Homo sapiens: one gene and its partner. The protein of the gene in region 2 interacts with the protein of the main gene of each other region in a biochemical or structural test. Each region holds a gene or a part of one and is shown on either strand. Other genes may lie near its edges.

The links.
Region 1: the proteins of BTK (region 2) and GTF2I form a complex in vitro, tested with the Homo sapiens proteins (4 studies listed by BioGRID and IntAct, with this or other methods).

The regions. Positions count from the first base shown.
Region 1 is NC_000007.14:74,751,569-74,755,319, reverse strand, and holds part of GTF2I (general transcription factor II-I), read right to left. Parts: intron 3,231-3,751; coding exon 3,150-3,230; intron 2,227-3,149; coding exon 2,143-2,226; intron 1,475-2,142; coding exon 1,291-1,474; intron 1-1,290. UniProt on the Homo sapiens protein: Interacts with the basal transcription machinery by coordinating the formation of a multiprotein complex at the C-FOS promoter, and linking specific signal responsive activator complexes.
Region 2 is NC_000023.11:101,358,592-101,362,342, forward strand, and holds part of BTK (tyrosine-protein kinase BTK), read right to left. Parts: intron 3,650-3,751; coding exon 3,582-3,649; intron 2,165-3,581; coding exon 1,977-2,164; intron 1,560-1,976; coding exon 1,497-1,559; intron 757-1,496; coding exon 702-756; intron 106-701; coding exon 26-105; intron 1-25. UniProt on the Homo sapiens protein: Non-receptor tyrosine kinase indispensable for B lymphocyte development, differentiation and signaling. Binding of antigen to the B-cell antigen receptor (BCR) triggers signaling that ultimately leads to B-cell activation.

The DNA.
Region 1 (3,751 bases), on a different chromosome or scaffold from region 2:
GTGTTAAGCTACTAGTAAATGGAGGAAAAACAAAAAATAGAAACGCAGAGCAGGGAACAGAGTGATTCTAAGTTTAACATACGGAAGAACGGAAGGGGCTTTTTGCCTAACTCCTGGGAGTGATATGGAGAATGACGGTGGGTGAAGTGGAACCAAAATATGAGATTTTGAGGGAAAGAAGATTGGAAGAAGACGAGTGTATGAGAAGCCTCAAGAGGATTTATTATGAGATTTCTGAGTGCCAGTTCCAAGAGACCTGAACTAGAGACAGTGGCAATCTGATGATGAAATGATTGGGTAGGTTGAGTCGTAGCTGTTTCTGGGGGGCTGGAAGACAAAGGGGAAGATAACCTGGGGTTGGTGCTCAGGTGGGCATCTCTTACAGTGACAAGGACGTGGGAAGGAATGTGGCACTCACAATGGTGTCAGAGGTGAGTACAATCATCATGCCTGCTCTACGGGAAGGAGCTGACACTCTCAGTGGGAACAACGATCAATCTCATTTACAGACAAAGAACAGAGTGACCTGGCTAACAAATGGCTGATGCAAGGTTGAATCCGTCTGACCCGAAGCCTGTGACAAGGCGCCCTAAGACAGAGGTTGACAAAGTTCTTTTTTTCTTGTGATGGAGTCTCACTCTGTCGTCCAGGCTGGAGTGCAGTGGCATGATCTTGGCTCATTGCAACCTCCACCTCCTGGGTTCAAGCGACTATCCTGCCTCAGCCTCCCGAGTAGCTGGGATTACAGGCACCCGCCATCATGCCCAGCTAACTGTTTTATTTTTGTAGAGATGGGATTTCACCATGTTGGCCAGGCTGGTCTGGAACTCCTGACCTCAGGTGATCTGCCTGCCTTGGCCTCCCAAAATGCTGGGATTACAGGCGTTAGCCACTGTGCCTAGCTAAGGTTTTTCTACAAAGTGCTAGAGAGTAAATATTTTAGACTTTGGAGGCCATGCCTTCTCAGTCCCAGCTACTTACTCACTGTGACAGGAAAGCAGCCATGGATAATACGGGTGTAGCTGTGTTTCAGGAAGACTCTAAAAATAGGAGGCAGCCTGAATTTGGCAAACAGTCCTAGTTTGCCAACCCTTTGCCAAAGAATTAAAAGAGTCAGCTTAGTTCGTAGAAGCACATCTGACATTCTAATGATGACACAAGTTATTTTGATTTGTTGATTGCACAGCATAGGAAGCCGGATTCGATGACTACCTGTGGCTGCATTTTAGAAGAGTCAGCCTCATGAGCTCCAGATTCGCTCCTGTGACTAAGCAGGAAACTCTCACTTACCTAATGACCGTGAATTTGATAAACTCGGCAGAGTCTAAGATCCTTCTCATGGAGCTGATTTCCAGGTAGCTGGGGGCTTTGAAGGACACCCCCGGGGGCATGCCATCAACTACCACACAGCCAGGGTTAATTGTGATTTTCCTGTAGGGAACTTTCACAGGAAAACCCATACCAATAGCTTCACCTACAGGGACAGTGAGACAAACAGCACAACAGCACAGATTAACCCACCGCCTTAAACAGCCTGTCAAAAGCACAAGATCAACATTTATTTTAAAGACTGTCTCTGCTGTTAACTAAGGTCTTTGTACACTTCAAACAAATTTAAATATGAACCTTAAATTTTTTTTTTTTTTGAGACAGAGTCTTGCTCTGTCACCCAGGTTGGAGTGTGGTGGCTTGATCTCAGCTCACTGCAATCTCTGCCTCCCAGGTTCAAGCAATTCTCGTGCCACAGCCTCCTGAGTAGCTGGGATTACAGGTGTGCACCACCATACCCGGCTAATTTTTTGAATTTTTTAGTAGAGACAGGGTTTCACTATGTTGGCCAGGCTGGTCTCGAACTCCTGGCCTCAACTGATCCACCTGCCTCGGGCTCCCAAAGTGCTGGGATTACAAGTGTGAGCCACACTGCCAGATGGTGAACCTTAAATTCATTAACTTTCATACTGACAATCAATAGTGTAACACTAATGGTATCTTATTAAATAAATTTAGCACAAACAACTCACTTTTAAATTTTAACTCCTTTTATATAGGATTACAACCATCCAACCATCATCTGCTGAAAAGATCTTATTAAAACAAATCTCTTTGCTTATAGCAACTGTACTTTGCAAATGCAAAACTTACCAAATTTCCGACTAAAGAGGTCATTCACTTGTTCTCTTAGCTGTCTAGCTTTTTCAACTTTCGAGAGTCTTTCATTATCATCATCTGAAACAGTTCAGAGAAAACCCAAAACTTAAATACTGCTTTTTTTTTTTTTTATGGTAAAGAGATGGTATCTCACGATGTTGCCCAGACTGGCCTTGAACTCTTGGGCTCAAGCGATCCTCCTGCCTAAGCCTCCCAAGTAGCCGAGACTACAGGTACAAGCCGCTGCTCAATGATGCACTTTTAATCCCAATTTTTAGGAGCTCTGTGTAATGTTTTCAAGCATTTTCCATTTTTTAATGATTTAAGTATTTGAGCACTTTGAGCTAATTAAATTTGAAATTGTTTAAAATAATGCCTAACTAAAAATGCTACAAATTTATTCTTGTTATAAAGACCTTTACCTGCTGTTTTATATAGATTTTTTTTTTTTCCCAGATGGAGTATGGCTCTGTCACCAAGGCTGGAGTGCACTGGCCCCATCTCGGCTCACTGCGACCTCCACCTCCCGGGTTCAAGCACTTCTCCTGCCTCAGCCTCCCAAGTAGCTGGGATTACAGCCACACACAACCAGGCCTGGCTAATTTTTCTTGTATGTTTAGTAGAGTCAGGGTTTCACCACGTTGGCTAGGCTGGTTTTGAATTCCTGACCTCAAGCGATCCTCCTGCCTCAGCCTCCCAAAGTGCTGGGATTACAGGCGTGAGCCACCGTGCCCGGTCTCATATAGACTTTTTTTAAGGAACAGACTAGCCATTTGGGTGGTTAACAGGATTTAGCTCATGCCAAGTGCCAAAACTTGCCGTTGCTGTTTGGAGAGCAACTGTATTTGGAAGGCAACTGCTGTAGGAGTCTGGGAGGAGCACCAGGCAACGTGTAATGTATCCGAGTCCCCGGATGAGCTGAGCAAACCTCTCTAGTTGGGAAAGTCCAAGAGGCCCTGAAGAGACCCCCAAAAACTCTGATGGAAGCAGAGAACTCATACCTGGAATTGTCACCTGAATGATGTTAAGGTCTTCAACACCTGATGCAGTAGTATTAACATTGGGTGATGAATTTATTTTTCCTGAAAATATACATTTAAAATCAGAATTTGTAGAAAACACGGTCAACATCTCTAATAATCATGCTGTCTGAGACTGTTTTATCTCAGTCCTGTTCAAGGTTCTTTCTTTCCATGGTAGATCATTTCAAGAAGACATGATGCCCCCTGAAGGGCTGCCTTTCACTGTTTTTCTCTTCCTGGGGGTACTTAGGAGATCATCACACACTCACAGAGCCACCCAATTATTAAATAACTAAAAATTGTGAAATAGCCTGAACTACAACTTTGAATGGGTTTTCTTTTTTCTTTTTGAGATGAGTCTTGCTCTGTTGTCCAGGCTGGAGTGCAGTGGTGCGATCTCGGCTCACTGCAACTTCCGCCTCCCGGGTTCAAGTGATTCTGCTGTCTCAGCCTCCTGAGTAGCTGGGATTATAGGCGCCTGCCACCACGCCTGGCTAATTTTTTATATTTTTAGTAGAGACAGGGTTTTGCCGTGTTGGCCAGGCTGGTCTCAAACTCCTGACCTCAGGTGATCCACCCAC
Region 2 (3,751 bases):
AGGGCCTTGGAATAGTAGCACTCACCCTGTGGATTTAGCAAACACAGACACTGTATATTTGCCAGCTTTGCTGGAGTCTCTGACAATGAAACCTCCTTCTTTCCCCTGAAACAACGAAAAAGAAGCTGTCTGTAGGAGGAAGTGGTGCTCACACCTGCATCCCACCTGCCCAAACTTGAGAGAGAAAATAGAACAACCCCTGATTTTACTGCCAAGTTCCACGCTTGAGCTACAGCCTCATTGCTTTTAATATTAAAAGGTGCAGGCCGGGCATGGTGGCTCATGCCTGTAATCCCAGCATTTTGGGAGGCCGAGGTGGGCGGATCACCTGAGGTCAGGAGTTCGAGACCAGCCTGGCCAACATGGTGAAACCCCGTCTCTGCTAAAAATACAAAAATTAGTCGGGCGTGGTGGCATGTGCCTGTAATCCCAGCTACTTGGGAGGCTGAGGTAGGAGAATTACTTGAACCCAGAAGGCGGAGGTTGCAGTGAGCCCAGATCACGCCACTGCACTCCAGCCTGGGTGACAGACCGAGAGTCCGTCTCAGAAAAACAAAAACAAAAAAAATGGTGTAATTGGGATCCCAGACGATGGCAGCTTTGACACTGCCTTGCCCAAAGGTAGGGGGCAGAACAGGCCCTCAGTTCAAGATCCTCACTTATGCAAGGAGAATGCTGTGTGCTAGTGGTTCCACACTTACCTCTTGCTTTAGCAGTTGCTCAGCCTGACTCCGAGTCATGTGTTTGGAATACCACCTGTGAAGGGAGAGTGCTGCTTGAGTGGCTCCTGGTCATAAGCAGATTGGAGGTTACAGCACCCTCCAGGGCTTGTCCATGTCAGTGATTCAGTCAACTCACTCAAACCCTATTTACTGAGCATCTGTCATGTGCATAGCACACTGTATCCCTTTCCCAAACCCAGGTTGGCATTGAAGATTCATGGAAATGGAGAGTAGCAGGCAAAGGCAAGCAGCAGGGAGTTGCAGGGAAGAGATCAGGGACTAGGGCACTTGAGAACAATCCACTTCCATGATTAGGGAGGAAAGGACAACAGTAGCAGTTTGACATTTTAATTCTTTCATCAGGTCGTCAACTCCTTTTTCTTTGAGTGTGATTCTTCTGGATTTGAGGGCATGGTGACCTCTCCAGCTCTCATAAATGGAGGGTGTTTGGGGGGTAAAGGTAAGACAGATACACTAATTTGAGGTGGTGGCATCATTTGATTCAGATGGTACTAATTTTAATATATATCTTGAAATAAAAAATATGTTGAAAGTAGAAAAAAGTGTATATATATATATACACACTTGTGTATGTATACATAATATACCTATATATACACCAGTGTATGTATACATATGTATACATATATACACTTGTGTGTGTTATATATATATATAAATATATATAAAATATATATAAATAAATAAATATATATATATATAGAGAGAGAGAGTTCCTCCTGGAAGATTGTGGACTGACATAAACATACTTACTCATACATTTCTATGGAGTCTTCTGCTTCAGTGACATAGTTACTAGGAATGTAGCCTTCCTGCCTGTGAAGGAAACAATGTGGCAGTTCATCCAGCACCTCCCCAGCCTCCAGGAGACAGATTCATATGCCCACGTCCCTGAGCTCAGAACAAATCTCAAATGGAGGTATATGTATCATGCACCTCCCTCAAAGACAATCATGTCTCTGATGCATGGTTAGGCAGTGAGCCAGTGAGGTGCAGAGCTTATGCACATGTTGCATTGGTTATATGTGCCCAACAACAGAGGCTCAGAGATGTGGCAGAGGCCATGTATAGGGAGCTGCACGCTGGGAAGTACTTGGAGGGAGAGCATGTTCAGTCTGGTGTGGGAAGAACAGTCTCTGATGAGGATGCTGATCACGGGAATTATGCCGCAGCACTTTTTGCGTGTAGGGAGTGGGCAGGCACCAGGCTCAGGAAGGGCTGGTGTGGACTCACCCATTTTTATCTCGTGCTCTCCACCATGGTAAGTTGCTTTCCTCCAAGATAAAATATTCATCACCCTTCCGCAGCTGTAGATCATTTGCATTCATTGGCATGTAATCATAAAGGGCCACAACCTTTTTCAGCTCACTTGTGGAGACTGGTGCTGCTGCTGGCTCAGGCGGTAGTGGCTTTTTCAAGATCTATGTAGTTAGGAGAAAAGGTAGGAGGGTTTGTCAAGATACCAAGCACTCTTCTCTTCTCTCCCAACTCTCTGGCTTACTCAAGACACCCAAATCAGGCATACTAAAATATTACTCAGCAGTCATTCAACAACCATTTTTAAGCACCAGTGCAGGAGTTCTCAGCCTTGCACACATATAAAGACCATGTATGGAACTTTTAAATTCCAATGTACTTTCGGAGGCCAAGGCGGGCGGATCAGTTGAGGCCAGGAGTTCGAGACCAGCCTGGCCAACGTGACGAAACCCCATCTCTACTAAAAATGCAAAAATCAGCTGGGCATGGTAGTGTGTGCATATAGCCCCAGCTACTCAGGAGGCTGAGGCAGGAGAATAACTTGACCCCAGGAGGCGGAGGTTGTAGTGAGCCAAGACCACGCCACTGCACTCCAGCCTGGGTGACAGAGTGAGACTGTCTCAAAAAAAAACCCACAAAAAACAAAAAACCAATTCCAATACCTAGTCAGTTTCCTCACAGACCAATTACATCAAAATCAAACTCTCAGGAATGGGACCCAAACATTACTATTTTTAAAGCTCACTAGACAAAAACCATTTATAGCTAAGGTCAGGAAACCGGCTTGGCACTAAACTTGTACGTGAATCTACTAAGTGGCTCAGAACCTTGGTTTCCTTCTTTGTAAAATGAGTATAATAATACCTGCTCTACTTACTTACAATATGTGAGAAAGGGCTTTCTAGCCCTCAAGAAGGAACCAAAAAAAAAAAAAAAACTTCTGAAGTGTTAGTGATAGGTGGTGTTAGTGCTAAGTGTTGAGTATGTTGGTATTAAGTGTTAAATTCTTCTAACTTTACTGTATGTTTGAAAATACTTTCCAGCTGGGCACGGTGGCTCACGCCTGTAATCCCAGCACTTTAGGAGGCCGAGGCGGGTTCGAGACCAGCCTGAACAACATGGTGACACCCCCATCTCTACTAAAAATACAAAAATTAGCTGGGCGTGGTGGTGCATGCCTGTAATCCCAGCTACTCAGGAGGCTGAGACAGGAGAATCACTTGAATCTGGGAGGCGGAGGTTGCAGTGAGCCGAGATCATGCCATTACACTCGAACCTGGGCGACAGAGCGAGACTCCGTCTCAAAACAAAAACAAAAGCAAAAACAAAACAACAACAAAAACTTTACATTAAAAAAATCAGGTTTTGTTCTAAACAGGTGATTGGATTACATGGTTGCTGAGAGCCTTCTATCTTTCCATCGAGGAGGAAATCCTAATTAGAAGAACAAATCCCCCATCTTAGCAAGAATACCAATTAACACTGCCAAGTCCCAGGGTAATTCTAAGACTCTAGTGTGTTCTTAGGGCTTGACTATAAGTTTCCATTTAAGCAGTGGCAGCACCCAGTTTCCCTGTATACCTGGTCCTCCTCAGGCGTTGGGGGAAGAGGCTTTTTTGTCTTCCGGTGAGAACTCCCAGGTTTTAAGCCTGCAAAACAAGAAGCCAGTGATGATATGGAATGCACTTTAGGAAAGGGGCCAAGGACAGGTTTGGTCAGGGACTTTGCCGTCCATATTGAGTGCCTTTAGG